2 separate regions of the Homo sapiens genome follow, and region 1 is linked to region 2. The links come from fine-mapping of genetic effects on gene expression. A gene starts in region 2. The other region holds a variant in brackets. All regions are shown on one strand. Distances are between the middles of the regions.

Region 1 (2,910 bases), 150 kb after region 2:
AGCTGAAACATTACTACAACCAATATAAAAATTCAGTATGATCATGGGAAATAAAGATCCATGTATAGAAAGTAGTCTTTATGTACAAGCAACCACCAGTAAGAAGATATTCTTCAAGAGAAAAATTCCATTTATAACAGTAGCAAAGAAAAGCTTAAACTATATATATATATAAGCTATATGATTAAAATGTTATGATTCTTGAGGAAAACTGGACTTGAATATATAGAAAGACAATGTATTCTGAGACAGTAGTTTCCATGAAGATGTCAATTCTCTCAAGCCAACTAATTAATGTAATCCTTTCTCTGACCATCCCACACAGCCCCCCAAGAAAAACACAGAAAATTTTCTGAAACTAAGTTGATTCTAAGGCTTGTATGGAAAAAAAACAAGAATACACAGAAAAACAACAAAAAAGAAGAGTAATAAGGAAAGGCTAGCCTTACTTGATATTAAAACATAATATAAGTCCTTAATAATTAAAGTGGTATGTACTTGGCACATGTATAGACAGAGACCAATGGAACGGAATAAAAAGGGCCAAACAAGACATCCTAATATTGGAATTTAATATATGATAAAGATGGCAATACAAATGTGTGGAACAGAAATTAATTTCTTCCAGTGTCAGGCAACAATCCTCTAGAAAAAAACAGGCAAATGACAAGAACAGCGGAAGAAATACTAATGGCCTTTAAATATATGACAAGATTCTTAACTCCACCCATGTTATGGGTTTAATTCATATTTCAAAAATACATGAATTTTGGTCCCCACAAAATTTACAAGAATTCTAACTTCTGGTATCTCCAAATGTATCCTTATTTGGAGGCAGGATCTTTACAGAGGAAATCAAGTTAAAATAAGGTCATAAGCGTAGACCCTAATCCAATATGACAGGTGTCCTAACTGAACAAGGACAGAGAATGTGAAGACAATGTGAAGACACATAAGGAAAAGAAAGCCATTTACAAACCAAGGAGAGACGTCTGTGTTAAATTCTTTCCTCGCAGCCCTCAGAAGGTATCAACCCTGTGGACACCTTCATCTTGGACTTTCAGCTTCCAGAACTGTGAGACAATAAATGTCCAGTTTAAGCCAGCCAGTTTGTGGAACTGTGTTATAGCAGCCCTAGCAAACTAATATAATGAAAAAGAGAAATGTAAATTATAAAAGATATACTATATCTCAAGCCATCCTTATAGAGTTAAACAAGAATTCTGGACAGAAGTATGGTTAACTATTAGTCAGGCAGCACTTTGACCCACTTCCTTGTAACTGAAAGTTACTTAGCACTAGATACTGACCATTTGCATCCCCATTGTTCTTGTGGATGGGATTTCTGACATCAGAATCATAAGGCTTTTAAGAATTGCCTAAGCAGATCGTGAGTTCCAGCAGAACAGCTGACACCAACCAGTTTGAAGATCCCCACAAAGTAACCAATTCAGCATGAGAATATAGTTTCTTCATCTCCCTATACCACGACTTCACCTTGCACTCTTCGACCAATCAATGCTCTCCATACTCTGGCCCCCTCCAAAACCCTTAAAAATCACTAGTCACAAACTGCTCAGGGACACAGACTTGAGTTTTCATTCTGTTTCCTCATTTGGCAGCCCTATGATTAAACCTCTCTCTCTGCTGCAACCTGGACATATCAGAATCTCTGGGACACACTTAAAGCAGTGTGTAGAGGGAAATTTATAGCACTAAATGCCCACAAGAGAAAGCAGGAAAGATCTAAAATTGATACCCTAACATCACAATGAAAAGAACAAGCTAAGCAAGAGCAAACGCA[T/C]CCAAAAGCTAGCAAAAGACAAGAAATAACTAAGATCAGAGCACAACTGAAGGAGACAGAGACACAAAAAACCCTTCAAAAAATCAATGAATTCAGGAGCTGGTTTTTTGAAAAGATCAACAAAATTGACAGACCGCTAGCAAGGCTAATGAAGAAAGGAGAGAAGAATCAAATAGATGCAATAAAAAATGATAAAGGGGATATCACCACTGATCCCACAGAAATACAAACTACCATCAGAGAGTATTATAGACAACTCTACGCAAATAAACTAGAAAATCTAGAAGAAATGGATAAATTCCTGGATACATGCACCCTCCCAAGACTAAACCAGGAAGAAGTTGAATCCCTCAATAGACCAAGAACAGACTCTGAAATTGAGGCAATAATTAAGAGCCTACCAACCAAAAAAAACTCCAGGACCAGACGGATTCACAGTCCTATTCTACCAGAGGTGCAAAGAGAAGCTGGTTCCATTCCTTCTGAAACTATTCCAATTAATAGAAAAAGAGGGAATCCTCCCTAACTCAATTTATGAGGACAGCATCATCCTGATACCAAAGACTGGGAGAGTCACAACAACAAAAGATAATTTTAGACCAATATCCCTGATGAACATCAATGCAAAAATCTTCAATAAAATACTGGCAAACCAAACCCAGAAGCACATCAAAAAGCTTATCCACCATGATCAAGTGGGTTTCATCCCTGGAATGCAAGGCTGGTTCAACATACACAAATCAATAAACGTAATCCAGCATATAAACAGAACCAAAGACAAAAACCACATGATTGTGTCAACAGATGCCGAAAAGGTCTTTGACAAAATTCAACAGCCCTTCATGCTAAAAACTCTCAATAAATTAGGTATTGATGGGACGTATCTCAAAATAATAAGAGCGATTTATGACAAACCCACAGCCAGTATCATACTGAATGGGCAAAAACTGGAAGCATTCCCTTTGAAAACTGGCACAAGACAGGGATGCCCTCTCTCGCCACTCCTATTCAACATAGTGTTGGAAGTTCTGGCCAGGGCAATCAGGCAGGAGAAAGAAATAAAGGGTATTCAATTAGGAAAAGAGGAAGTCAAATTGTCCCTGTTT
Region 2 (2,910 bases):
TTTTTCAGAGACACTACCTTGTGATATAAAAAAACAGAAGCCAAAAAAAAAAAAATCCCAAGGAATTTCTGAAGGAGCCTCTCTTCACTACTCTGCTCTTGTTAGAATAATGAGTAACACTGGTATAACATTCTACAATTTACAAGAATATTTATCTGCTTCATGAAACCTCAAAACAAACCTTTGAGACTATCAGGATCCTAACCACTTTACAGATGAAGATAACTTACATAATAGTTATGGGGTTTCCTGGATCTGACTCCTTTATTCTTCACATTACATTATGTTGCCTTCCCCACAACTAATCAAGGACTCCGTTTTTTCTTTTTTCTTTCTCGAAACCATTTCCTCCATATTAGTTCCCTTTGGAATAGAAGCCTTTTTAAAAGTCCACCTTAGTATATCTTCAGGGAATCACAAATTCACTATGCTATTTATAATTCATGAGTTTCTCTAATGGTATCAAGGCAGCAAATACAGGTGAAGTAATAATTATCCACCTGATAGTACTTAACACACATACCCCGTGTAAAAATACTGCTGGTGTACAGTGTGTGTGTTGGTGACGCCGGAGGAAGTGGCCGTGAACAGGCTTAATGCCGCATTGAGTAACTTCAACCTCATCTTGCTCAGGTTCATATCTCTCCTGAATTTCCCCTGGTAAGCGCAAGATTCAGGATCCGTTCTCACAGTTTTTTGTTTACCAGTTGATGTTGGCTGCATTCAGGAACGCCTTGCTCTCTTAAGCCACAGTGCCTTCCTGGTCTCTTCTTCACAGGGTCTTCCACAATCGCTCTTTTTCCTGGGCACGGTGGTTTGCTGAAAGTCGGGGTGGGGGGCGGGGCGTTCCCAAGTTTCCAGGCCAATTACCTACCTGCCTTAGAGCAATTACGCACTTCTCTCTGGTAGTCCCTGAAATGTTCTAATCATCAGATCGCCCCAGCTTCTCCTGACCGTTTCTTGCTTACGGCTCAGTTCAGACAGTATTTGTTCCGGGACGCTCAGCGGGAGGCGGTTTTTACCGGCTCACTCGAGACCCCAATTCCAGGCGCCCTGCAGCTTCCCTCAGACTCCCCGGGACCGTGTTTGGCCTTCCCATTCGTACGCTGCGGCTGCGCTTTCCTCTCGTAACACCACGCTGGCGAACCTGGAAAGGATCAAATAGTCCCACTCGCCAACCTAGCGCGGCGGGACCGGCCCAAAAGGGCCTTTGCAGCCTGCGCATGCGGACTCGGCGGCCGCCACCGACTCCCCGTCTGCTTCCCTCCGGGCGGCAGCCGCGGTTTGGAGCTTGCTGACAGCTCTGCGACCGGCGGGCGCAGCCTCGTCTCGTGCTTCCACGTTATCCTATCAGGGACGGGGCGGGGCGGCGGCCTCCGCAGCCTATCAGCGCGAACCACGACCCCGGCGAGCCCGGGAGGAAAGCCGCCAGAAAGAAGGCGATTGGATGGCGGCGGCGCTCTGGGGCGTAGCGTCGCCCGGGCCCCGCCCACCGCTGCCTTCCTCTGCTGGGCTCCAGAGCCACTGAGGCCTGAGCGAGAGCCGACGGCGGGCGGGCGCAGCTGCTGCCGGAGCGCCGGCGCGTGCTGGTGGGCCACACACCTTTCCTCCTCTTCACTCGCGAGCCCTCGGACATGGTGGCCCCCGGCTCCGTGACCAGCCGGCTGGGCTCGGTATTCCCCTTCCTGCTAGTCCTGGTGGATCTGCAGTACGAAGGTGAGTCCTGCCCTGCCCCGGCCAGGAAGTGGGCTCCCGGACCAGGCCCCCCGCGCTTTCCCGTCTGCGCCCGGGCGCCTGTCCCGGAGCGGCTCGGGAGGTGGGGCGAGCGCTGGGGGAGCCCGCGGCCTGGCTTGGGCCTGAGCCCGCGCCCGGTTCCGGGTTTGTCTGGGGAAGAATCGAGGGGACTGGCGGGCCGCGGGGCCGGGACAGCGGGTTTGGACTAAGGAACCGGGCCGCAGGAGTCGGAGGAGGCGGGGTGCGGGGGCACCGGGCTACGACTTCAGGAAGTCCTGGGACGCGGAGACTTGGGCAGCCTTTGGGTCCTGGCCTCGCTTGGGACCCTCGCTGGGCGCCTGGGGACACTGTCAGTCATTGGTGCTGGCTGGGAGGAGGCACTAAGGTGGCCAAAAGACTTCCTTCGCTCTGGAGTTCTTGGGTGGGGAAGGAGTGTCATGTCCGGCTGGGAGTTGGAGGGGACAGTGTTGACTATTTAAAAAGTGTGTAACCATCCCCATTAAGATGCACTGTCGTGTAGAGAAATTGTTAGTTTGGTGCAATGAGGAGCCGCTGTTGGAATTCCATCTCCCGGACGGCCAGGCACTGAGTTTGTGGTTTTACAACTCCCAACATGGTGTCATTCAACGTATGGCTGGCATTACTTTTCCAAGTTCGCTGTAAAAAGGTTCCCTTAAAAAGATACGAACGATTAAATTTCACTTCAGTCCTGCAGACTGGAATGTTGGCTACTCCAGAATAGCGAAAATAGAGGGCTGTCCTATCTTAGATGGCAGCGGGGAGGAGTAAGAATTAAAGTTGATAGTGCCGATTTAACGAATGCTTCTGGCGCGGTTACTGTGCGAAATATTCGAGTGTAATGACACATCACATGCACTGATCTATTTTCATCCCCATAAAAAGGGCTAGTTGTCAAGGAGGTCAAATTAAACCTTTGAGTATTCCATTCAAAGGGAGCGAGGAACTAAAAATTGGGAATTGTTTATAGTGAATTCTTCTGAAAGTTCTCAACTTTTTTTTTTAAAGTAGTACTCCCCAGTTTTTAGGTGTCACCCATAGCAATGGGCTTTTGCTTTTGCTTCCCCTGGTAACCATATTTTTTGAACCCCAAATCAGAACACGTAGTGTGGCAACATTGGGACAAAGAATTTGACAGTGAGGCTGCCCCCAGAAAAA

Direction of the effects. Alleles are on the strand shown, and positions count from the first base shown. SD is a standard deviation of normalised expression in the study named.
With allele C in place of T in region 1, the expression in whole blood of the gene that starts at base 1,518 in region 2 is higher (small effect, 0.25 SD a copy in Lepik 2017).

Evidence for each region. PIP is the estimated chance that this variant, and not a neighbour inherited with it, causes the effect. A credible set is the group of variants that fine-mapping cannot tell apart.
Region 1: its variant is the best candidate, but not a certain one, in a credible set for the expression of DNAJC3 in whole blood (Lepik 2017, PIP 0.50).

What each region holds. Positions count from the first base shown.
Region 1 is chr13:95,826,480-95,829,389 of GRCh38, forward strand. All of the region lies in intron 38 of UGGT2 (UDP-glucose glycoprotein glucosyltransferase 2), which reads right to left. Among named protein-coding and RNA genes, the nearest start is that of DNAJC3, 150 kb to the left of the region's middle. The variant T/C (reference allele first, on the strand shown) is at 1,805.
Region 2 is chr13:95,675,622-95,678,531 of GRCh38, forward strand. DNAJC3 (DnaJ heat shock protein family (Hsp40) member C3) reads left to right here and starts at 1,518. Exons shown (of 12, transcript NM_006260.5): 1 at 1,518-1,716. The coding sequence starts at 1,635. It overlaps DNAJC3-DT (DNAJC3 divergent transcript), which reads right to left and starts at 1,304. Exons shown (of 2, transcript NR_132117.1): 1 at 231-1,304. RefSeq lists enhancers at 608-1,455, 719-818, 1,456-2,302, 1,649-1,698 and silencers at 1,339-1,578, 1,809-1,898.